Homo sapiens: one gene and its partners. The protein of the gene in region 1 purifies or fractionates together with the protein of each later gene. This does not show direct contact. Each region holds a gene or a part of one and is shown in the gene's direction. Other genes may lie near its edges. The genes, in order: PIAS4, SETX, TXNDC9, SLX4, ETS1, SIMC1 and ZNF644.

What was found.
Region 2: the proteins of PIAS4 (region 1) and SETX purify together in Homo sapiens (affinity purification with mass spectrometry; one large-scale study listed by BioGRID and IntAct). This does not show direct contact.
Region 3: the proteins of PIAS4 (region 1) and TXNDC9 purify together in Homo sapiens (affinity purification with mass spectrometry; one large-scale study listed by BioGRID and IntAct). This does not show direct contact.
Region 4: the proteins of PIAS4 (region 1) and SLX4 purify together in Homo sapiens (affinity purification with mass spectrometry; 2 studies listed by BioGRID and IntAct, with this or other methods). This does not show direct contact.
Region 5: the proteins of PIAS4 (region 1) and ETS1 purify together in Homo sapiens (affinity purification with western blotting; 2 studies listed by BioGRID). This does not show direct contact.
Region 6: the proteins of PIAS4 (region 1) and SIMC1 purify together in Homo sapiens (affinity purification with mass spectrometry; one large-scale study listed by BioGRID and IntAct). This does not show direct contact.
Region 7: the proteins of PIAS4 (region 1) and ZNF644 purify together in Homo sapiens (affinity purification with mass spectrometry; one large-scale study listed by BioGRID and IntAct). This does not show direct contact.

What each region holds. Positions count from the first base shown.
Region 1 is NC_000019.10:4,010,736-4,014,235, forward strand, and holds part of PIAS4 (E3 SUMO-protein ligase PIAS4), read left to right. Parts: intron 1-2,187; coding exon 2,188-2,614; intron 2,615-3,500.
Region 2 is NC_000009.12:132,344,987-132,348,486, reverse strand, and holds part of SETX (probable helicase senataxin), read left to right. Parts: intron 1-2,015; coding exon 2,016-2,226; intron 2,227-3,500. UniProt on the Homo sapiens protein: Probable RNA/DNA helicase involved in diverse aspects of RNA metabolism and genomic integrity.
Region 3 is NC_000002.12:99,322,834-99,326,333, reverse strand, and holds part of TXNDC9 (thioredoxin domain-containing protein 9), read left to right. Parts: intron 1-3,500. UniProt on the Homo sapiens protein: Significantly diminishes the chaperonin TCP1 complex ATPase activity, thus negatively impacts protein folding, including that of actin or tubulin.
Region 4 is NC_000016.10:3,587,607-3,591,106, reverse strand, and holds part of SLX4 (structure-specific endonuclease subunit SLX4), read left to right. Parts: coding exon 1-2,105; exon of another isoform or gene 2,106-2,837; intron 2,838-3,438; exon of another isoform or gene 3,439-3,500. UniProt on the Homo sapiens protein: Regulatory subunit that interacts with and increases the activity of different structure-specific endonucleases.
Region 5 is NC_000011.10:128,577,559-128,581,058, reverse strand, and holds part of ETS1 (protein C-ets-1), read left to right. Parts: intron 1-3,500. UniProt on the Homo sapiens protein: Transcription factor. Directly controls the expression of cytokine and chemokine genes in a wide variety of different cellular contexts. May control the differentiation, survival and proliferation of lymphoid cells.
Region 6 is NC_000005.10:176,241,424-176,244,923, forward strand, and holds part of SIMC1 (SUMO-interacting motif-containing protein 1), read left to right. Parts: intron 1-3,500.
Region 7 is NC_000001.11:91,012,036-91,015,535, reverse strand, and holds part of ZNF644 (zinc finger protein 644), read left to right. Parts: intron 1-3,500.

The sequences.
Region 1 (3,500 bases):
TACACGATGGGTGTCCTCATTGTGAAATTAGCGACACAGGCCTTGCTGGTGCCTGGTAGGGAGCAAGACGCTGGCATCCCGATTCTTTACAGTCACGGGGCCCCGCAGCCCTGATATGGGAAGAGGCTTCTCCCGAGGCTCTTTGGGCAGGGCTGGGCCGCCTGCACGTGTGTCCCTGTCATTTTGAGCCTGGACAGCCTCTCCGTCTCCAACAGGACCCTGGCCCGATACAGCTGGAAGAAATCAGAGCTGACAGATGAGGACCCGACAGTGGGCCCCGGCTGCTGCAGCTTTGGTGCTGAAATGTGCGGCTAGGCTCCTGGTCTCACCCTGGGGCAGCCAGGAGCCGGAAACCTCAGCGCCTCCTGGCACGGAGGCTGCAGTTTACATACCCCACTGGGACTGCCTCTGGCTTCGACCCTCAGGGTCTTTCGAGTGGAGTTTGAATGGTTTATTGGTTTCTTCGGGTACCCGCCAGCTTTCCTTAACACCCTTGACGCTTGAGCTTTCTCCCCATTCCTCCTGGAAGCTACTGTTTCCCACCACATCTCATTCATCCCAGGCCAGCTTCAGGGCTAAGGGTGGGTGGCCCTGAAACCCTGCCAGCCCATCCCTCGAGGACACCTGGCTTCTGCAGCCTGTTGAGGAGCCTTCCTTCCCCTTCAGGGTCCTACCCCTCATGGAGGTCAGGCCACTGCCAGTCTACCCCACCTCAAACACCAGGGTCAGCTGGGCTCTGCTGTTTGGTTTTTATTTCGCTGGAGAGGCCCGGCCAGGCGATGAGGGCCAGGTCCTGCCAAGCCTCATTTGTCGCTTTGACCCAGGTCCTGCAACAGCCCCTGTGGCTGCTATCTTCCCCTTGGACCGGTCCCCCAGGGACTCAGGGCAACGTGTGGAGGTGTGTTTGGTGTGGAGGTGTGTTTGGTGTGGAGGTGTGGGGGGTGTGGAGGTGTGTGGGGTGTGGAGGTGTGTGGGGTGTGGAGGTGTGTGGGGTGTGGAGGTGTGTGGGGTGTGGAGGTGTGTGGGGTGTGGAGGTGTGTGGGGTGTGGAGGTGTGTGGGGTGTGGAGGTGTGTGGGGTGTGGAGGTGTGTGGGGTGTGGAGGTGTGTGGGGTGTGGAGGTGTGTTTGGTGTGGAGCTGTGGGGTGTGGAGGTGTGGGGGGTGTGGAGGTGTGTGGGGTGTGGAGGTGTGTGGGGTGTGGAGGTGTGTGGGGTGTGGAGGTGTGTGGGGTGTGGAGGTGTGTGGGGTGTGGAGGTGTGTGGGGTGTGGAGGTGTGTGGGGTGTGGAGGTGTGTGGGGTGTGGAGGTGTGTGGGGTGTGGAGGTGTGTGGGGTGTGGAGGTGTGTTTGGTTGTCGTGAGCTGTGGGTATTTAGCACCACACAGAGCCCAGGATGGCCCCAGTGTCCACAGGGCCAAGGAGGAGAAACCCTGCCTGGGATGATCAGCAGATGTTTCGGAGGCCCCCACAGGCCCAGCCCTGTGTTGACATCCAGAGGGTAGTGTGGCAGCAAGAACCGCCCCTGGCTTCAGAGCCAGGCCTGGGTTCGAATCTTGGCGCTGCCACCTCTGAGCCGACAGTTCCTCATTTGTGACAGAGCTCACACACCAGCCTAGCAGGGGTGTTTTAAGGATCAGAGTTAAATATATAATCACATGACCGGCTTGGTTCCCGGCAGGTGATTAGTACTAAGTAAACTGTGGCTACCGTTGGCGAGACCGAAGGGAAAACATATCTGTGGCTGACATGGGTTGAGCGCCCGCCCAGCCAGTGCTTTATGTCATTATCCTCCCGACGTAGAGACTGAGGGTCAGAGAGGCATTTGGTGTTTGCCGGTAAGGCACTGGCAGAGGCTGTTTACAAGTAAAGCACAATTGTCAGTTCCTGCCCTGGGGATGCTTTCAGGCTGAAGACAGGGAAAGAGAACCTAAAATAGAAGGGGGGGCCTAGTCAGAGGCGCTTTTGCTGCGTTGGCGATGCTGGGGAAAGTTTGATGAGGAGGAGGGAGGGGGCAGGGCTTTGCTGGGAGGGGGCACCGTAGGGGCAGGGCACTCCACCAGCCCCAGCCAAGGCTGGCGCTTCCTGGCGAGTGGGTGTCTTTCACGGCCCCCACATCGGGGCCTGGCCTCCATGGAGTCCCCTGCCTCGCAGCTGTGTCCTCTGAGTGTGTGTGTGCTTGCTCCTCCTCAGAACATGGTGATGAGTTTTCGAGTCTCCGACCTTCAGATGCTCCTGGGTTTCGTGGGCCGGAGTAAGAGTGGACTGAAGCACGAGCTCGTCACCAGGGCCCTCCAGCTGGTGCAGTTTGACTGTAGCCCTGAGCTGTTCAAGAAGATCAAGGAGCTGTACGAGACCCGCTACGCCAAGAAGAACTCGGAGCCTGCCCCACAGCCGCACCGGCCCCTGGACCCCCTGACCATGCACTCCACCTACGACCGGGCCGGCGCTGTGCCCAGGACTCCGCTGGCAGGCCCCAATATTGACTACCCCGTGCTCTACGGAAAGTACTTAAACGGACTGGGACGGTTGCCCGCCAAGACCCTCAAGCCAGAAGTCCGCCTGGTGAAGCTGCCGTTCTTTAATATGCTGGATGAGCTGCTGAAGCCCACCGAATTAGGTGAGTGGTCACCCTGGGGAGGCTGCGACTGGAGGCTTCACCTAGGCCCCGTCGCCCAGCCCAGCCCAGCCACACAGCCGACTTCGAGTGATGTTCTCTGTGGCGCAGCCAGGGCGGGGAGCCACAGTGGCCAGGGGTGTCCTTCCTCGGAAGCAAAGGGACCATCTTTGATATTGGTCACCCCTTGCTGTGTTACAAGTTACCCCGAAATGGAGCCACTGGAAGCAGGGGGCGTCTGTTAGCTCTCAGGAACCTGTGAGCTGTGTTGCGGGGCATTGGGGCTTGGGGGCTCTCATGAGGCTCAGTCAGGCTGGAGCCACCTCATCTGGAGGCTCGACCAGGGCTGGAGCAGGCACATCCTTGTGTGGTGGCTGGCAGGCCTCAGCTCCTCGCCAGCTCTTGGCCACAGTCCCCAGGTCCTCATGGTGCGGACTCCTGCACGGATTGCCTGGGCGTCCTCAGCCTGGTGGCTCCCTCACCCTAGGGTAGCGAGTGTGCACCTCCAAGCTGGGAGCTGGAGCCCTTTTTATAACCCAACCTCGGACACGCCTCGCCATCTCCCCCACAGAGTCCGTTGCTCACACAGACTCTGTGGCGCATGCAGGGACCACACCAGGCTGTGACTGCCAGGGCCAGGGGTGACCAGGGCCACCTGGGAGCCTGGTTTCCCTGCTTATTCCCCTTGGAAAGGGGGCTGGCCAGTGGCATCCTTCCCCCGGGCTCTGGTTCCTCGCTGGCAGCCTGCAGGAGTGTCCTTGGTCAGTGGGCTCAGGTCACTGCCAGGCTGTGTGCACCGGGCGTGCTGGGGGTTCAGGGCGATCCCAGGCGGAGGAGAGGTGCTGGGCTCCACGCTTCTCTCTCTCGTGTCTTTGTCTGCAAGCACTGA
Region 2 (3,500 bases), on another chromosome or scaffold:
TCATTGGGAGGGGATTTGTTTCATAATTTTTTGGTCAGTGCTATAATACATGCATGTATCTGAGTATCTGAATGGCCTGGGTTTTTGTTAGTGGGTTGTTTTTTTTTTGTTTTGTTTTTTTTTTGAGACAGAGTCTCACTCTCTTGTCCAGGCTGGAGTGCAGTGGCGTGATCTTGGCTCACTTCAACCTCTGCCTCCCAGGTGGGTTCAAGCGATTCTCCTGCCTCAGCCTCCCAAGTAGCTGGGACTAAAGGCACGTGCCACCACACCCGGCTAATTTTTTATTTTTAGTAGAGATGGGGTTTTACCATGTTGGCCCAGCTGGTCTCAAAACTCCTGACGTCAGGTGATCTGCCCACCTCGGCCTCCCAAAGTGCTGGGATTACAGCTGTGAGCCACTGCGCCTGGCCAGGGTTTTTTTTTTTTAATTGGTAATAATAACTTCTTTTTTTCTTTTTTTAATGGGCAAATGGCATAAACCTTTAAGGGCAAGCATATTTTCCAGTCATGATAACAAAAGTGAAAGATATAATTCTAAATATTTGGCTTTGAATATTTGGTTTATTTATTGATGAAAAACAGAACGTAGACCATAGAGATATATACAGTATATAGAGGAGAGGATGATTAGTAATGGACTTGTGTTGAGAAACGTGCACTTTATAAAGTTTTCTAATTATGAAGCTATCCAGCGTCTTTTATACCACAAGCTGCACTAAGGTAGTTAGCTATGGCTAGAACATAGAAGGGAAGACATAGAAGGGCCTCGGTTTTGCATTTGACAGAGAGGCTCCAGCTTCTCTTTTTTTTTTTTTTGAATGTAGTTGATAGGGATGTTGAGATATTTATAGAAAACTTCTACAAGAGAAGTGTTTAAGGCTGAGTGCTGTAGCTTACACCTGTAATCCCAGCACTTTGGGATGCTGAGGCAGGTGGATTACGAGGTCAGCAGTTTGAGACCAGCCTGGCCATCATGGTGAAAGTCCGTCTCTACTAAAATACAAAAATTAGCCAGGCGTGGTGGTGGGCGCCTGTAATCCCAGCTACTCAGGAGGCTGAGGCAGGAGAATCGCTTGAACCTGGGAGGCCAAGGTTGCGGTGAGCTGAGACCACGCCATTGCACTCCAGCCTGGGCGACAGCGAGATTCTGTCTCAAAAAAAAATAAAAAGTGTTTAAACATAGCATACTATTTTTTGTTTTCTTGTTTTTTTTCGTTTGTTTGGTTTTTTGTTTGAGATGGAGTTTCCCTGTTGTTGCCCAGGCTGGAGTGCAGTGGCGTGATCTTGGCTCACTGCAACCTCCGCCTCCTGGGTTCAAGCGATTCTCCTGCTTCAGCCTCCCGAATATGGGATTACAGGCATGCACCACTACGCCTGGCTATTTTTGTATTTTTAGTAGAGACGAGGTTCCTCCGTGTTGGTCAGGGTGGTTCTGAACTCCCGACCTCAGGTGATCCGCCCACCTCAGCCTCTCAAAGTGCTGGGATTACAGGCAGGAGCCAGTGTGCCTGGCCTGTTTTCTTTTTCTCTTAGAGGCAGGGTTTCCCTATGTCATCCAGACTGGAGTACAGTGGCACAATCATAGCTCACTGTAGCTTCAGATTCTTGGGCTCAAGTGATCCTTTTGCTTCAGCCTCCAGAGAAGCTAGGACTGTAGGCATGCACCACACCTAGCTAATTTTTCTATTTTTTTTTTTTTTAGTGACAGGGTCTTGCTTTGCTACCCAGGCTGGTCTCGAACTCCTGACCTGAAACAGTCCTCCTACCTCAGCCTTCCAAAATGCTGGGATTACAGCTGTGAGCCACTGTGCCTAGCCAATATCTCATACTCTGTGTACTCACTTTTCATAAAAGTGGCCACATTTGAATAGTTTTCTTTAAATCTAAAATACAAGCTCTAATACTTTACATTTCAGAATTTTTGTACTTAGGAAAAGGCTTTCTAGGTCGTCACATTCAGTGTATTTTGTTGATGATAAGACATAACGCACACTGCCCATTTTATTTTCCTCTAGGTTTTATGGGAATTAGAAACCTTACGTCTCATAAATCACTTTGAAAAATCCATGAAGGCAGAAATTGGAGATGATGATGAGTTATATATAGTAGACAATAATGGAGAGATGCCACTGTTTGACATCACTGGGCAAGACTTTGAAAATAAGCTTCGAGTTCCTCTTCTTGAAATACTGAAATATCCTTACTTGCTTCTACATGAACGTGTTAGTGAGTATCTTGATGGTTCCTCAAGTTATATCAGTTTTATTATTTTAGTACCATAAGAATTTAGGCTTATCTATATTGCAAATTTGTTTGCTAAACATATAATTAGGATATATAATTAGGACTTCATTTTTTTTCCAACGTTTTTTATTTTTTGAGTTCAAACACAAAATACCTATTTTTGGGGCACAGTTCAAACTTATCTTGTTCAGAGGGTAACTGAAGATTGTTTTTATTTTTTTTTAGAGACAGGGTCTTGCTGTGTCTCCTAGGCCGAAGTGCAGTGGCGCAGTCATGGCCCACTGCAGCCTCTACCTCCTGGGCTCAAGTAATACTCCTGCCTGAGCCTTGTGGGTAGCTGGGAGTACAGGCGTGTGCCATTGCGTCCAGCTAATTTTATGTTGTGTTTATTGTAGAGATGAAGTTTCACTGTTGCCCAGGCTGGTGTTGAACTCCTGGGCTCAAGCAGTCCTCCCACCTCAGCTTCCCAAATTGCTGGGATTATAGGCACGAGCCACTATGCCTGGCTCTCAACATTTTATTGTGAAAATTTTTTAACATAGAAAAGTAAATTATACAGTGAACATGATATACCCATCACATAGTTTATACGGTTGTTAACATTTTGCTATATTTGCTTTATTACGTATCTGTTCACCTCTTTGTTCAATTATTAATAATTTTCATTCTCGCCGGGCATGGTGGCTCACGCCTGTAATCCCATCATTTTGGGAGGCTGAGGCAGGCAGAGCACCTGAGGTCAGGAGTTCAAGACCAGCCTTGCTAACATAGTGAAACCCTGTCTCTACTAAAAATACAAAAATTAGCCAGGTGTGGTGGCAGGCACCTGTAATCCCAGCTACTCAGGAGGCTGAGGCAGGAGAATCACTTGAACCTGGAAGGCGGAGGTTGCAGTGAACCAAGATTGTGCCACTGCACTCCAGCCTGGGTGACAGACAGAGACTCTGTCTTAAAAAATAGTAATAATAATAATTTTCATTCTTGTAGTATGTCTGTGGCAGGGTTTCTCAGCCTTGCATTGGTGACATTTTGGATAATCCTTTGCTGTGGGCTGTGCCGTCCATTGTAGGATGTGTAGCAGCATCCCTGGCCTTTGTCTACTAAATGCCGCTAGCACTCCCTATCTCCTTTGTGACAACCAAAAATGTCTCCAGACATTGCTGAATACCCCTTTTGGGGGGTGAGGTATAAAATCACCCCTGGTTGGGAAATGCTATTCTGTAGTAATTTTCATTAACCACTATGGCATGGCTTAT
Region 3 (3,500 bases), on another chromosome or scaffold:
CTTGATCTCACAACCCAACAGCTTCATTGTTAGTTAACACCTTTCAAGAATTGATTGCCTGGTATTCATTGACTAAGAGAATAAAAATGAAACAAAATATTGAGATGGTGAAATCCCTTGTGAGGAACAGTGAGAGAAGGGATTAGGCAGGTAGAAAGGTATCAGAGAAACCTCTGCCCTTATGGTACACAACCATCTCGCATTGGCACACATTCCTCAAGTTGCCAACCTCTGACAAATATGATGAGGTGATATATAAATATACTAGTATGTAAAATATTATTTGTCCACTTGTTTTTTTTTTGTTGTTTTTTTTTGTTTTTGAGACAGAGTCTTACACTGTCACCCAGGCTAGAGTGCAATGGCAGGATCTTGGCTCACTCCAACCTCCACCTCCCGGGTTCAAGTGATTCTCCTGCCTCAGCCTCCCGAGTAGCCAGGGCTACAGTCACCCACCACTACACCCGGCTAACTTTTGTCTTTTTAGTAGAGACAGGGTTTCTCCAGATTGGCCAGGCTGGTCTCAAACTCTTGACCTCAGGTGAACCACCCACCTTGGCCTCCCAAAGTGTTGGGATTACAAGTATGAGCCACGGCACCCGGCCTCACTTGTTTTTTTTATGTCTTTCCCAACTAGATTGTTCGTTTTGTAGAGGCAGCGCATTTGCCTGTATTGTGACCTACTGTTCTCTGGGATCATAGCCCTAAAGCAACTGCCTGACGCATAGTAGGTGGTCAATAAATACATTTGATGGTGTATAAACAGTGCATCACCAGGAGTACTCACCTTCAAACAGAACTGAAAAATCAAAATCATCCAGTGAACTTTATATATTAGCAAAGTTCCTAGCACATAGTAGGCAGGATGCTTTCATGTATATTATCCCTAGAACATTCACAATAATCTTCAGAGGCACTTATTATTATTCCTGTATTTCATGTATGGAAACCAAGATTTGGAGAAATTGACTCACCTAGTATCACTCAGATACTAAATGATAAAAAAAAGAGAGAGATTGGAACCCATGTTTTAAGCCTATTGCTATTTTTTTAATTTTTAACTTTTGTGGGTAGTAGTAGGTAAATATGGGGTACATGAGATATTTTAACACAGGCATGCAGTGTTTAATAATCACATCAGGGTAAATGGAATATCCATCACCTCAAGCTTTTATCCTTTGTGTTATAAACAATCTAATTATGCTCTTTTAGTTATTTTTAAACATACGTAAAGGCCTATAGCTATTTATACCATGACTGTTGTTTTGGATTTTTAAAAATTGATTGACGGGTTGGGCGCCATGGCTCATGCCTGTAATCCCAGTACTTTGGGAGGCTGAGGCAGGTGGATCATGAGGTCAGGAGATCAAGGCCATCCTGGCCAACATGGTGAAAACCCATCTCTACTAAAATACAAAAAGTTAGCTGGGCATGGTGGCTCGTGCCTGTAGTCCCAGTTGTGCAGGAGGCTGAGGCAGGGGAATTGCTTGAACCTGGGAGGCGGAGGTTGCATTGAGCTGAGATCGTGCCACTGCACTCCAGCCTGGCAACAGAGCAAGACACTCTGTCTTGCTCTTTAAATACAAATTAAAATTAGCCAGGCAATGGTGCGGGTGCCTGTAATCCTAGCTTCTTAGGAGGCTGAGCCAGGAGAATTGCTTGAACCCAGGAGGTGGAGGTTGCAGTGAGCAGAGGTCGTGCCACTGCACTCTAGCCTGGGCGACAGAGCGAGACTCCATCTCAAAAAAAAAATACGTTCCTTACTGCAGTTAAAGTATGGAGTTGATTTATTTACAAATTTTCAGGAACATATTTCTCATATAAAGGTTGATTTATCATTTGTTTTGAGCTTTATTTAAAAACCATTTATTAATTTGTTCTCTCTTACCATTTTTCACTGAAATCTCGTTACTGAACTACATGAGTAACATATGAAAAAACATATCCGGGGAAAAAGTGATGAGGCACCAAGGTTACACATAACTTATGTTAGAGCCAAACTTAGTTCAGGAAAAACTACATCAAGTGCACAAAAAGCTTACTGGTAAAAATAACCATGAAGTATTTTGTGTGTGAGTCATCTAGAGGTAGTTCTCAAGCTTTATTTGAGCATAAGAACAGCTGTATGTTTCCCAACTCCACTGCCAGAGAATTTTGATTCATCTGGATATTTTAAAAGTTGACGGCAGGCTGGGTGTGGTAGCTCACACCTCTAATCCCAGCACTTTGGGAGGCTGAGGCAGGTGGATTGCTTGAGGTCAGCAGTTCAAGACCAGCCTAGTCAACATGGTGAAACCCCATCGCTACTAAAAATACAAAAATTAGCCGGGCGTGGTGGCAGGTGCCTGTAATCCCAGCTACTCGGGAGGCTGAGGAAGGAGAATCGATTGAACCCAGGAGGCAGAGATTACAGTGAGCCGAGATCGCGCCACTGCACTGCAGCCTGGGTGACAGAGTGAGAGTCCAACTCAAAAAAGATGAATAAATAAAAGTTGATCATAATGAACACCTGGGGTTAAGAACCACCGGTCTAAAAGATTGTTACAATAGTCTGTTTTAGAAACACTCGTGAATTGGCCAGTTGAAAATGAATTTTTTGAGACAGAGTCTTACTCTGTCGCCTAGCCTGGAGTGCAGTGGTGTAATCTTAGCTCACTGTAACCCCCACCTCCCAGGTTCAAGTGATTCTCGTGCCTCAGCCTCCTGTGTAGCTGGGATTTCAGGTGCCCATCATGACGCCCAGCTAATTTTTGTATTTTTAGTAGAGATGGGGTTTCACCATATTGACCAGGCTGGTCTTGAACTCTTGGCCTCAAGTGATCTGCCCGCCTCAGCCTCCCAAAGTGTTGGGATTACAGGCGTGAGCCACTGCATCAGGCCAGAAAATAAATTTTAATGTAAAGAAGATGTCACTTTTTTTGTTTGTTGAGATGGAGTCTCACTATGTTGCCCAGGTTGGAGTACAACGGCACAGTTTCGGCTCACTGCAGCCTCCACCTCCCAGGTTCAAGTGATTCTCCTGCCTCAGCCTCCCAAGTAGCTGGGACTACAGGCATGCACCACCACACCCAGCTAATTTTTGTATTTTTAGTAGAGACAGGGTTTCACCGTGTTGGCTAAGCTGGTCTCAAACTACTGACTTCAAGTGATCCGCCTGCCTCAGCCTCCCAAAGTGCCAAGATTACAGATGTGAGCCACCGCACCTGGCCAAGAAAATCTCACTTCTGTTTCCGTCTTCATTGGAAGATGGCTTAATAAAAGTTACTACTGGTAGGCTGGGTGCAGTGGCTCACGCTTGTAATCCTAGCACTTCGGGAGGCCGAGGCAGGCGGATCACAAGGTCAGGAGATCAAGACCATCCTGGCTAACACAGTGAAACCCCGTCTCTACTAAAAATACAAAAAATTAGCCGGGCATGGTGGCAGGCGCCTGTAGTCCCAGCTACTTGGGAGGCTGAGGCAGGAGAATGGCATGAACCAGGGAGGCGGAGCTTGCAGTGA
Region 4 (3,500 bases), on another chromosome or scaffold:
AAACGTGAATGAAGCAGAAATGGAAGAAATTTATGAATTTGCAGCTACTCAGCGAAAGCTTCTCCAGGAAGAAAGGGCAGCGGGTGCCGGCGAGGACGCTGACTGGCTGGAGGGTGGCAGTCCGGTTTCTGGGCAACTCCTAGCAGGTGTCCAGGTGCAGAAACAGTGGGACAAGGTGGAGGAGATGGAGCCGTTGGAGCCAGGAAGAGATGAGGCCGCCACCACCTGGGAGAAGATGGGACAGTGCGCTCTCCCGCCACCCCAGGGCCAGCACTCAGGGGCACGGGGAGCAGAGGCCCCTGAGCAGGAGGCGCCAGAGGAGGCGCTTGGCCATTCCAGCTGCTCCAGCCCTTCCAGGGACTGCCAGGCAGAGAGAAAAGAAGGCTCTCTTCCGCACTCAGATGATGCCGGGGATTACGAACAGCTCTTCTCATCAACTCAGGGAGAGATCTCAGAGCCGTCCCAAATAACAAGTGAGCCCGAGGAACAAAGTGGCGCTGTCAGGGAAAGGGGGCTGGAGGTTTCTCATCGCCTGGCTCCCTGGCAGGCATCTCCACCGCACCCGTGCCGCTTCCTATTGGGGCCTCCCCAGGGCGGGAGTCCCCGCGGGTCTCATCACACAAGTGGGTCGTCCCTGTCAACACCCCGGTCCCGTGGCGGAACTTCCCAGGTGGGCTCCCCAACCTTGCTGTCTCCAGCTGTGCCATCAAAGCAGAAAAGGGACAGGAGCATCCTCACGCTGTCTAAAGAGCCAGGGCACCAGAAAGGCAAAGAGCGTCGGTCCGTGCTGGAGTGCAGAAATAAGGGGGTCCTGATGTTCCCAGAAAAATCTCCGTCTATTGACCTAACCCAGTCAAATCCTGACCATTCGAGCTCCAGATCTCAGAAATCTTCATCCAAACTGAACGAAGAAGATGAGGTCATCCTCTTACTGGACTCGGATGAGGAGCTGGAGCTAGAACAAACCAAAATGAAGTCCATTTCTAGTGATCCTCTGGAAGAAAAGAAAGCTCTAGAAATTAGCCCTAGGTCCTGTGAGCTGTTTTCCATCATTGATGTTGATGCAGATCAGGAACCTTCCCAGAGCCCACCAAGAAGCGAAGCTGTGCTGCAGCAGGAGGATGAGGGGGCGCTGCCGGAGAATCGGGGCTCTTTGGGCAGGAGAGGGGCTCCCTGGCTGTTCTGTGACCGTGAGAGCAGCCCCAGCGAGGCCAGCACCACAGACACCTCGTGGCTGGTGCCCGCCACCCCGCTGGCCAGCAGAAGCCGTGACTGTTCTTCCCAGACCCAAATCAGCAGCCTCAGGAGCGGGCTGGCCGTGCAGGCGGTGACTCAGCACACGCCCAGGGCCTCAGTAGGAAACAGGGAAGGGAACGAAGTCGCACAGAAGTTTTCTGTCATCAGGCCCCAGACACCACCGCCCCAGACACCGTCCTCATGCCTCACTCCCGTCTCTCCAGGAACTTCTGACGGCAGAAGGCAAGGCCACAGAAGCCCTTCCCGTCCCCACCCCGGGGGCCACCCGCACTCCTCTCCGCTGGCTCCACATCCCATCTCAGGGGACCGCGCCCACTTCAGCAGGCGGTTCCTGAAACACTCGCCGCCTGGGCCAAGCTTCCTGAACCAGACCCCAGCGGGTGAAGTGGTGGAAGTCGGAGACAGTGACGATGAGCAGGAGGTGGCCTCCCATCAGGCCAACAGAAGCCCCCCACTGGACAGTGACCCCCCAATTCCAATTGACGACTGCTGCTGGCACATGGAGCCCCTCTCGCCAATTCCCATTGACCACTGGAACCTGGAGCGGACCGGCCCCCTGAGCACCAGCAGCCCCAGCCGCAGGATGAACGAGGCCGCCGACAGCCGTGACTGTCGCTCCCCGGGACTCCTGGACACCACCCCCATCCGAGGAAGCTGCACTACCCAGAGGAAATTGCAAGAGAAGTCCTCGGGCGCGGGCTCCCTGGGGAATAGCAGGCCGAGCTTTCTGAATTCGGCTCTGTGGGACGTTTGGGACGGGGAAGAGCAGAGGCCTCCAGAGACCCCTCCTCCGGCCCAGATGCCAAGCGCTGGTGGAGCTCAGAAGCCCGAAGGGTTAGAGACACCCAGTGAGTAGCCAGGAGAGCTGGGGAAGGGGACTGTCTTTGTTACTATTTTACACTAAGAGGGTGGGAAGATCAGTCATGAGACCCAGGGGCTGCCCTCTGAATGCCTGCTGACCTGAGGCATGACACTTCCGCTGCCTTCCAGACTCCCCTCCACAGTGGAGGAGAGCCGGGCTGGTTCTCATGCTACACTTCTCAGCCAGTAAGTCAGTGTTTCCCAAACTTGCCTGGCTCCAGTGCTCACCTGGGCATGTGTTAAAAATCCACATCTGTGGACCCTTCTCCAGAACACGGAGCCGGCACCTCCAAAGGCCACAACTCATTCAGCAAGTATCGGCATGCCTTAAGATTGGACCAGGGTGGTTCTCCAGAATGTTAACCGTAGATTGACTGCAGGACCCAGCAATTCCACTTTTACCTGTATATCCAAAAGAATTAAAAACAGGGACTCAGACATGCATGTTCATAGAAGCGCTGTTCACAATCGCCAAAAGCTGGAAGCAACCCAAATGCCCGTCAGGAGATGAACAGGGAAACCAAACGTGGTCCATCTAGACCACTAGAAAATGGAATAGTGTTCAGCCACAAAGAGGAGTGAGGCACTGCCACACGCTACCGCGTGGACGACCCAGAAAACATGCTGCCGGGTGAGAGAAGCCAGACATAGAAGGTCATGTACTGTCTGCACTCATGGATATGAAATGTCTAGAATAGGCAAATCCAGAGAAAATGCAGGTTAGTGGTTGGCCTGGGTTGGAGGGAGGGGGAATGGGGAGTGACTGCTTATGGGATACAGGGTGTCCTTTTGGGGTGGTGAAAATGTTTTGCAAATAGATAGAGGTGATGGTTGTACAACATTGTGAATACTTAATGCCACTGAATTATTCCCTTTACGATTTTTTTATGTGAATTTCACCTCAATTAAAAAAAGAATCAGGTGGGACAAGTGTGAGAGGCTGTTAGGCCTGTTCTTCCTGGTCCTCCCAGGTGCAGGGATGCCACCTCCCTGCTCATTTCAGTCCCCGGGGAGAGTCAGAGCCCCAGGTGTCGGCCCCCTCGGTGCTGCTGCTCCCATCCAGGCACCTCCGGGGAGGGCAAGGACAGGCCGGGCTGGGCTGAGCATGACTGGGAGAAAGGCCAGGCTGTGAGTGAGCACCTGCCTGCGGCCTGGGGGCCCATTTCCTCCCAAAATCCAGATGAATGAGGCCACTGATAGTGTCCTCGGCCCTCAGGGGCTTCAGAAACACCTGGAGAGCTTCTTATAGCACGCCCGTGGCCCAGCCTGCCCCAGAGCCTTGCTTCGGGAGGGTGACTAAGAATTTGCATTTCTAACCAGTTCCCAGGCAGTGCTGTGAGAACAGCTGCAGGAGGCTGCACAGCAGATCTGAGGTGGGCTTC
Region 5 (3,500 bases), on another chromosome or scaffold:
AACATCTTCTAGTCTTTCTCTTTTTCAGGAGATAGTAGCGAGTTACTCCTCAAGGAAGGGTAAAACAATATACTCTTTAAAATTATAATGACATGAGTTCATTTTAATATTCTAAGAAGGATTCGTTGAGCTATGTCAATTCATACAGGACTTGAAAGTGTTATGCTTAATTAGGAGATGGGTTTATTTTTAGAGAAATAGGAGATGGATATGACTCATTTCCATTTAAGCAAGGGTTGGCGGAATAATTATAGTGAAGTTGTGAAGAAACAAAGACTGAGATGTTAATTGTACTGTGAGTTGCTGCTCTGTAACCTTAGTGAAAGAATAAATGCACTTAGCTTAAGACACAGAAGACAGTAGCCCATAATTTGGAACACAGCCTTCATTTGTCAGTGCTGGCTACTTAAAATAAGAAGGAATATTCACTACTACTGTAATGTTGGATTACTTAGTCAAGCAAATGAGGTTCTTGTAGATTTAGTAGTGAGACAGAAAAACCATCTTCAGTTCTTCTAATCCTTTTTCTTTTCTATGCGTTGTAACCACAAAGTTTCCATGGGGAGTAAGGAATGTTCAGCTTTCCTAGATATGATGGATCTTAAACCTGAGTTCTTAGAGAATTGGATTTGGGAGCTTTTGTTACAGTGACAGGTCAGGGAAGACATCTACTCAAATGATTTGGGAAATACACGTGGGCTACTCATGAGAATCAGAAAGAACACACTGAAGGAGTATAGATGAACTCATCAATCTGGTACATCCTATAGTTTAGAGAAAAGTGCCATCTTGCTTGTAGTTAACTCTTGAGAAGCCTAACCTCAGGGTCACACAAGGACACACTTCATCACAGGGATTTTTTTTTTTTTTTTTTTTTTTTTTAATGTCCAAACGATAACTTACTCTCTTGGATAAGCTCAGGACGCACAAGGATTGTACACACCAACTCTGTTTCAAGTACTTTAGGTACTTTCCCTCATTTAGTAAACAGACACTTGTTGCATGGCTACTATGTGTCATCTGAAAAGACACCATCCTTACTCTCAAGTTACTCATCATTCAGGAGCAGAAACAGGCATAGATACAGGAAGTGTCATGAACTTTGTTACACCGTTACAGTAAATCCCATGGAGGGGCATCAAGGAGGTCCATGCAATTGCCAAAGAGGGTAGGGGGGAGGGGAAAGCTTCCTGAAAGAGGAGATACTCTGAGTCTTCAAAAATACATTTCTATAGTATTCAGAAAAAAGAAATTAAAACTCTATACATTGTAGATTAAAGATGTTGCCTTGGTAGCCCAGGTGTTGCCTTTAGTTTGGCAAAAGTGCTGTTGTTTGGAGCAAGTTTTTTTTACATGGTTAGTTGTTTTGGACACCAAATTCTTTTTTTTTTTTTTTTTTCAATGGAGTTTTGCTCTTGTTGCCGGGTGGGAGTGTAATGGCGAGATCTCGGCTCACTGCAACCTCTGCCTCCCAGGCTCAAGCGATTCTTCTGCCTCAGCCTCCCAAGTAGCTGGGATTACAGGCATGTACCACCACACCTGGCTAATTTTGTATTTTTAGTAGAGATGGAATTTCACTATGTTTGTCAGGCTGCTCTTGAACTCCTGACCTTGGGTGGTCCGCCTGCCTCGGCCTCTCAAATTGCTGGAATTACAGGCGTGAGCCACCGAGCCCAGCCCTGGAAGCCAAATTCTTTGTCTCCTGTATTCCAAGCCAAAAGGACATGCTTTTTGTTTGAATTGATAGGAATCCTAAATTATTGACATTAGGATAAATGCTCATTGGAAATCTATTCAAATTTTGCATTGTTTTCAAAGAGGAAAGGCTGGGGTGAGGGGTGGTGGGGAGAAATCTACATTTTCTGCCACAGCTTTATTGTGCTTTTGAATTCCCCATGTGCCATCTTCATACCCAGGATATGTTTTAACCATAATTCATTGCCTATGAAGCTAACATGAAGACGAGAGGGCAAGTTGAAATTTAAAACATGATGCCTTTGTCAGTGGGAGTCTAATTTTGGCTGGTCTATTATAGAATGCAGTTAGTCAATATGTATTCAAATATGGAATGCATATTTTCTTTGTCCCCAAAATGCTCTTTTTCGGCATTTAGTGGGAATGTAAAATATTTTAGGAATTTTTATAATGACAAAGAATTGGGGACAAATTAATTATACGATAATAAGAGGCTCTTTAAAAGTATGATATATACATACAATAGAATACTTGGCAGTCATCATCTTTAGGATAGACAGCCACATTTATCAACAGAGAAAAATGTCCATAGCATTATGTTAAATGTCAGTGAACAAAGCAGGTTACAAAAGAACATGTGGAGAATAATCTCATGAAGGTAAAATTGTAATCACGTGTGTGTGTGTGACATCTATGTTCGTTTAGATAGATTAAAAAATACCCAGAAGAATATTGAACAAATTATTAGTATAATTATCTCTACATGGTGAGGTTTCAGGTGATTCTAATATCCATCTGTTACTTTTTTGTATTTTAATTTTTGCGGTAACATTGTATTAGTTTGGCAAAAACTGCTGATTTCAAAAGAATTTTGTTTTCAAAAGAAAAAAATTAAAGTGTAATTTACTTGGTATTTACCTAAAAGCGTAGTTTTTCTTTTAGGAATACATAACCCCAAATGAAAAAGGCTTAACTGATGTCAAAGTTATCTAGAAATACAGCCAAGCAGGGTCAGAGTTGATGTGAACTGGATTCAGCCTTGATTCAAGCCTGGTCTCTTTGGGATTTCTTGTTCTTCTGCTGCCTTGGCCTGAACAGTCCCTCTCCTCCCTAATTTTTCCTTTATTCTGTGTCTCTCAACCTGCCCTGCCCTGCCCTGGCAAGCTTTGGGTGAAAGGAAGTGAGAGCCTACAGGTCCTGGCCGGGTTGCCAGTTTGGGGAGGGTGGGAAGTTGGAGAAGTGGTCACTCGCTCTATGAAGAATAGAACTCTCTAGAATCAAGCAGAACCATAGTTTTAAAGTGATTTTTTGGACATGAGACACCCACATAAGCCAAAGTGTTGACTTTTTTGTCTTCTCCATCTCATGCTTGTTTCTGTCCTCGCCATCCAGGGTGATGAGGGTGCTTAGAGAAGCATCTTCTCTCTCTCTCTCTTTTTTTTTTTTTTGGCTTTTTGGCAGAAGAGAATTCCCTCCCACGTGACAACTGCTTGAACATCAGCTGCACCAATTTTTTTCTTAGCATTGCACACGTTTATTGCATAAATGCAAAGCAACTGTGGCATCTGAAGATTTACTCCCCAGCTAAGCAGCATCCATGAGACCTGTTTGGGTGCAAAAATGATTTGGACGCTGGGTAACAAAGGTCTAGAGAAGCATCTTCTCTAAGCACAGGAGGAGGCTGAAGACCAGGAGTCTGGTCTCAGCTTGGCCAATTAGCAGCATCGCCTTAGTCTTTCTCCTCATTTGTAAAAAGAGGGGTTTACACTGAAAAAGTGTGTACAAGTTTTCTAACTTACACTATT
Region 6 (3,500 bases), on another chromosome or scaffold:
TATTATGCCTTCGTTTCTAAATTTTCTCTAAGAACCCAGTGAAAAATTCCCTCATAATCTTTGTACTCTTGTTCATTTGTTTATTAAGTTCCTCTTAGAAGTTAGATTGCTGAGTCAAAAGGTGTGCCCTACTTTATATGTAGCTAACCCTTGAAGAACACGGGGATTAGGGTTGCTAACCCCCCCGTGCAGTTGAAAATTTACATGTAACATTTGACTCCTCGAAAACTTAACTACCAGTGGCCTACTGTTGACTGGAAGCCTTACCAGTAACATAAGCAGTTAACTCATGTTTTGTATGTTATATGGACTCTTACGATAAAGTAAGCAAGAGAAAAATGTTAAGATCATAAGGAAGATAAAATACATTTACAGTACTATACTGCATTTGTCAATACCATAGGTTTACATCGTCTGTTTACAAGATAAATCATCTGTCTGAAATAGGGGACAACCACAGCTGCAGACCTCTATCTACGGTACATCTCAAGCGATTCAGCTTTTCTTATGTCATGACTTTTCTCTGTTTCTTGAGAGCACATCCAGCATCACTAAGCACTTTGTATGGGTTTCATGGTGTTATTCAAGGTTTACGATATTACCCTACACATGATTAAACAAGTATATGTGGAAAAAAACCCAGGAGAGAACACTTGTTACCGTGATACACAGTTTACTGGGAAGTAGTGCAGAAATTGATTAGTGTCACGTGGCGTTTTAAGTGGATCCTCACAACACTTGAGCCCACCACAGCAGCAGCAGATGTCTGTGGTAGTAGGACATTATTATCACGGTAGTACAGTGTAGTCTATGGTAAATTTTATGCAGTTGTGATACAAATTAAAAAGAAAAAAATAATGAATTTAAAAATATGCAGTTGTGAGTTAATATTGCATCTTTACATTTCTGTCAACTGCAGATGTCACCATCTATGGTCAGTAAGTGATTGTGTGCATAAATTTTGATAAAGTTTAACTTTGTATAATAGATTTGTGTTGATTTTATGGTAGTAAATGGATAAAATAGGCTAGTATCTACATATATTTTATGCATTCAGGACATATCTTTTTCTTAGTTTTTTTCAATTTTTATAGGCTGTGGAGTTCATCTGTGAGTTTTCCAAATTGTTATAAATCGCCAAAAAATTTTCCAATATATTTATTGAAAAAAACTCTCTTGTAAGTGGACCCATGCAGTTCAAACCTGTGTTGTTCATGAATCAACTGTATTGCCAAATTTCCTACAGAAATTGTGCATTAATATTCTTACCAGTGGTATATGGCCAATCATATCTCTTTCTCTGCTGCCTAGTCACCCCTAGGTATTGTTACATTATTCCATAAATATTTATTGAACACTTATTATATACCAGGCACTCTTAGAGGTGCTGGGAATACATCTATGAAAACCAAGTCCCTGCCGTCATGGAGATTTCATTTTACTGAGGGGACACAGATAGTAAACAACACTATAAATGTAATGTCAGGTGATAATACAGAGTGTTAGGGGAAAAAATACGGTATTTTTGTTCTTTTAATCTTTGCTGTTTGATAGCCAGATTCCATAAGATGTCATTATTTTTTATTTTTTTATTATGATTCATTTATTCAATAAATATTTATTGAGCATATGCTGTAACCCTGGGGACCAGAGGTGAACAAGATGATAATGGAACTACATTCTACTGTGGAAAGATAGGCAGTAAACAAACTAACAAATAAGAGAACAGTATAATAGTAACTTTGGTGGGATTGGGAACATTTGATTGTGTTTTCAGAGAAGGCCTCTCTGAAGAGTTAATATTTGACCTGAGACTAAAATGACAACAAATTAGTTATAAGATCTAGATGAATAAGGCATTGTCAAAGGGAACAACAAAACCAAAAGTTTGGAGGCGGGAATGAGCATGACTTACTGGAAGAATGGAAAGCCAGTGAGGCTGCAATGTAACGACTGATGGACAGAGTCAGAAGAGATGAGAAGTAGGTAGGTTAGGTTATAGGGCTTTGGAGACCACAATAAGGGATTTGGATTTTATTGTAATACAGTAAGAAATCTTTGAAGGTTTAAGCAGGACAGTGACATGATTTGATTTACTTTTTTTTTTTTTGGAGATGGAGTCTTGCTCTGTTGCGTTGCCCAGGCTGTAGTGCAGTGGTGCGATCTCGGCTCACTGCAACCCCCACTTCCCAGGTTCAAGCAATTTCCCCCACCTCAGCCTCCCGAGTAGCCGGGACTACAAGCACACCACCACGCTTGACTAATTTTTTGTATTTTAGTAGAGACGGGGTTTCACCATGTTGGCCAGGATGGTCTAGATCTCCTGACCTCATGATCCACCCGCCTCGGCCTCCCAAAGTGCTGGGATTACAGGCGTGAGCCACTGCACCTAGCCTTGATTTACATTTTTTAGAGATGACTTTAGCTACTGTGAAAAGAAAAGATGGTAAGGTAGGGAGACCATATAATTTATCATCCAATTGGGAAACTTTTGCAAATGAAAAGGGATGCTAACTGGACCAGGATGTCAAGCAACAGGTGAAAACTGGAACTGTCCCAAACAAAGCAGAAGTGTAGTCACCCTACTGTAAGAGGGGAAGAGTGAAATTAGGGAGATCAGTTAGAAGGTTGGCTGTAGTAGTCCAGGTCAGAAATAACTGTAGCTTGGACTGGAGTGGTGGTACAGACTGGGAGAGTGGAGGGATGTAGATATTTAGTAAATAAAATCAACAGGTCCTGATAACTTGGATGTGGATAACAAGGGAAAGGAAGGAATGAAGAAGGATGCCCTGAGTTCTGGCTTGAGCAACTGAATGCATGTTGGTGTCATGCATTGAAATGAAGCAGACTTGGGAGGAACAGGGTTAGAGGAAAGATTCAAGAGTTCTGTTTTGAAGGTATAAAACTTAACGATGCCTGTGGAATAGCCAACTGGAGATGCCAAGTATAACATTTGTACTGAGTTTAGAGCTCTGAAGAAAAGTCCTGACTAGAGATACAAATTTAGTCTTGTTAGCGCATAGGTTATAGTGAAGTCATTGACCTGGATAAAATCATCTAGGTTGAGGTGACAAGAGGAAGAACATCCAGAACCTAGCCCAAGGGAACACCATAGTGTCCCAAGGGAGGAAGAGCAGCTAGTGAGGTTGGAGATAAAGGAGTGTGCTCACATGCAGTACAGCCAGACATCTTGCTTATGTTTATTGGAAACACATAGGGTATGTGTGCAAATTCCCTATGCTTGTCCTTTGCCCATTTTTCTGTTGCAGTGTTATAATGTTTCTTTTTTTTTTTCCTTTTTTTTTTTTTTTTTTTGAGAGGGAGTTTCACTCTTGTTGCCCAGGCTGGAGTGCAATGGCGCAATCTCAGCTCACTGCAACCTCCACCTACCTGGCTCAAGTGATTCTCCTGCCTCAGACTCCCAAGCAGCTGGGATTACAGGCATGTGCCACCATGCCCAGCTAATTTTATATTTTTAGTAGAGACAGGGTTTTACCATG
Region 7 (3,500 bases), on another chromosome or scaffold:
TCACTCTCCTTTCAATTTTTGACTGTGAGGCCATGTGGTGACTATTAGTAGAGAGAAGAAGGTGAGTGGCTATGCGTATTTGTAATGTACGTATAAACCCAAGATGAGAGTGAGGAGTGGCTGGTAGGTAGCTAGATTGAGGCGGGTGGAATATAATCTTTTCATTGGATAGTCTGAGTTGGGAATTTCCCAAACAGCATTTCCTTTTGCTCTTTTCCTCTCCACACTTTGTTTTGTATATGTCTGTGCTGGTATGGTGTTAAAGTTATCAGTTCCCCCTCTTTAATTTTCTTTCTACCACCAACCTCCTCCTAGCACAAACACGGATTTTAAGCTTATAAGCAAATTTGTCAAAGACAGCTAGTAAAAATAATTTTAGGTTCATTTGAGGAGGGGTACTAGTATGAAATTGTAAGTTTTTCATTTATGCTTGAAAAATACAGCAATTTGGAAAGTGAGGGAGGGGAAGTCACCCATAATCTTATTACCATTATATAATTATTAGTATTAAAGACAGATGACGTTAATTAAGCATCTACTATATTCTTTTAATAATCCTGTGATGTATATATTCCCACTTTACATGTGAGGAAACACATCCACTTAATAATGGAGTAGCCAAGTTTGAACCTAGGTATATCTTGAGAAGGTCTAGAGAGGAGACCTTTCTGTTCTACCTTCCTGTTCTTCTTACATATATATCCTTTTACCTAGTTGTTACACAATTTGTAAGTTTCATCTCCTAGTTTTAAAACTTAGCATTATAAAAACATTTTTCTCCCCCCCCTTATTTCAAGTGGTGTCGTATTGCTCTCATTGTCTATTCATACCACCATATAAAGGCTCTTTGTCTTGGCTGCTGGACATTGGTACAATGATGTTGACCAAAATGGATGCTGCCCTTTACTGAGTGACTAAGATGAAAAAAATCAGGCTTAATCAGAACTAATACTTTATGGGATTTGGATTGCTACAGGTTTAATCATGCTATCTATCCTTGCTGGTGGGACATTTGACTTAGAATTGTATATAAGTAAAATATAGATGAAAAATTGTATAATTTATAGCTATCTGAAAACAACTTTTTTTTAATATTTGAACACTTTGAAATGCCTTACACTTCCTTGTTAAAAATCTTAAAGGGATATTAAAATTAAATGGCACTTAATTACTATTAGTAATTCCTAATATAATATTTAATTCATAAAAGAAAAAAGCTTAATGTTGAATTCTGGCACTCATCGGGAAGATGACATTATATGTTAAGAGATAATTTGTGGGGCATAGTAACTATAGTTAATATTGCATACTTGAAAGTTGCTAGGAGAGTACATTTTAAGTGTTCACACCACAAAATATAACTATGTGAGGTAATGCATGTGTTAATTAGCTAGATTTAACCATTGCATAATTTATATGTATTTCAAAATGTGTTGTACACCATAAATATATACAATTTGTATTTATCAGTTTAAGAAGAAGAAGAAGAAAAAGGTAATTTGTGGGCATTTATAAATAGATTGTATAGGTCAGCACTGCCCAATAGAAATATAAGTTGAGCCACAAATGCAATTTTAGATTTTCTATAGCCACATCAAAAAATAAAATAAATAGGTGAAATTTTATTAATGGATTTTTATTTAACCCAGTATCTAAATACTATTATTTCATCATATAAACATGATTGAACTATTTTACATTTTTTCTTTTTTTAACCATGTTAAGTCTTCAAAATCTGTTAGTATTACATACTTAAAGCACATCTCAATTCAGACTAGCCAGAGTTCAGGTATTCAGTAGCCACATGAAGTTACTGTATTGGACAGTGCAATTACAGATAGTAAGTCCTATGGGGTATAGGGAAAGAATAACATAGAAATTGAACTGAACCGTAAAGGATAGCTGAGAACAGAAAATGCTTGAGAAGAATATTCCCATAAAGAAGTGATAGGAATTAAAACAGCAAATACAGTTTGATACCAGGTAATAGAGTGGCTTGAATCCAGTTTAGGGAATTTGGTTTGGGTGTGTATATGTGTGTGTGTGTGTGTATGTGTGTGTGTGTGTGTGTGTGTGTGTGTGTGAGAGAGAGATTGGAAATATATATTGGAGGGTGCCTAATTCGTGTCTCATACATGAGCACTTGATAAATACTGAATTAACTGGGTGCATTGGCTCATGCCTGTAGTCCCAGCACTATGGGAGGCTGAGGTCGGCAGATCGCCTGAGGTCAGGAGTTTGAGACCAGCTTGGCCAATATGATGAAATATCCCGTCTCTACTGAAAATACAAAAATTAGCTGGGCATGGTGGTGTGCACCTATAATGCCACCTACTTGGGAGGCTGAGGCGGGAGAATTGCTTAAACATGAGAGGCGGAGGTTGCAGTAAGCCAAGATCATGCCACTGCATCCCCACCTGGGCGACAGAGTGAGACTCAGTCTCCAAAAAACAAAAGAAAAAAGATAAATATTGAATTAATATTTAGAGAGAATTAATATGACACTACAGAAAATGCTGGAAAAAACATCCTAACAAAGCCTAGTCGATCTTCAAAAGGGAAAGTGTTTCATTTAGGGAATATTGATGTTCTGTGATTAACAATATGATGGAGATTGATAAAGAAGGATGAGAATTGAGAAAAGGTTTTTAGATTTAGCTATTAATTGGTTACTTGTTTTTAAGTATTTTTTTTAGGTATAACATACAGTGAAGTGCACAAATCTTAAGTACAACTCAGTGAATTTATACATATAAGTATACCTAGGTAACTCCCAGGTAGTGGGAGGTACTGGGTTACACCTGGGGAGAAGAGGATGTAAAAAAAGCACAGACATGAGAATTGTGGAATGCAAGCATTTTCCGTGATTAGAGCCTATTTTAAATGAAATACCCAGATAGAGATGTAGAATATTTTTCTTCACTGATTAAAGGTGCCTTGTGCTCCCTCCTATTAATTTCTCCCTACAGAAGTAACCACTATTTTAACCTCTAACCTCTATCACCATAAATTAGTTTTTGCTTGTTTCTTTTTCTTTTCCTTCCTTTTTTTTTCTTTTGAGACAGGGTCTCAGTCTGTCACCCTAGCTGGAGTGCATTGGCGCAATCTCAGCTCACTGCAGCCTTCACCTCCCAGGCTCAAGCGATCCTCCTCCTTCAGCTTCCTGAGTACCTGGAACTACAGGTGCATGCCATCATGCCTGGCTGATTTTTTTTTTTTTTCTTTCGGTAGTAGAGATAGGGTTTTACCATGTTGCCCGGGCTGGAGTTTTTGTTTCTAAACTTCTTATGGCATATTTGTCCTCCCTCCCAAGGGTAGTGAGAATTGATGCTTGAATCCATCTCTCTTTTCTTCTGTCCTTGTTTGGCATTGTTATGAATTGGGAGGTAAATCAGGTGATATTTGGTACTATGGCCCTTTTTTCCCCCCAGTGACAAAATCAGAGAGGTGCTTCTTAGTGTTCATTAATAGTAATCCTTTAGAGGTTAGTTTTATGACTT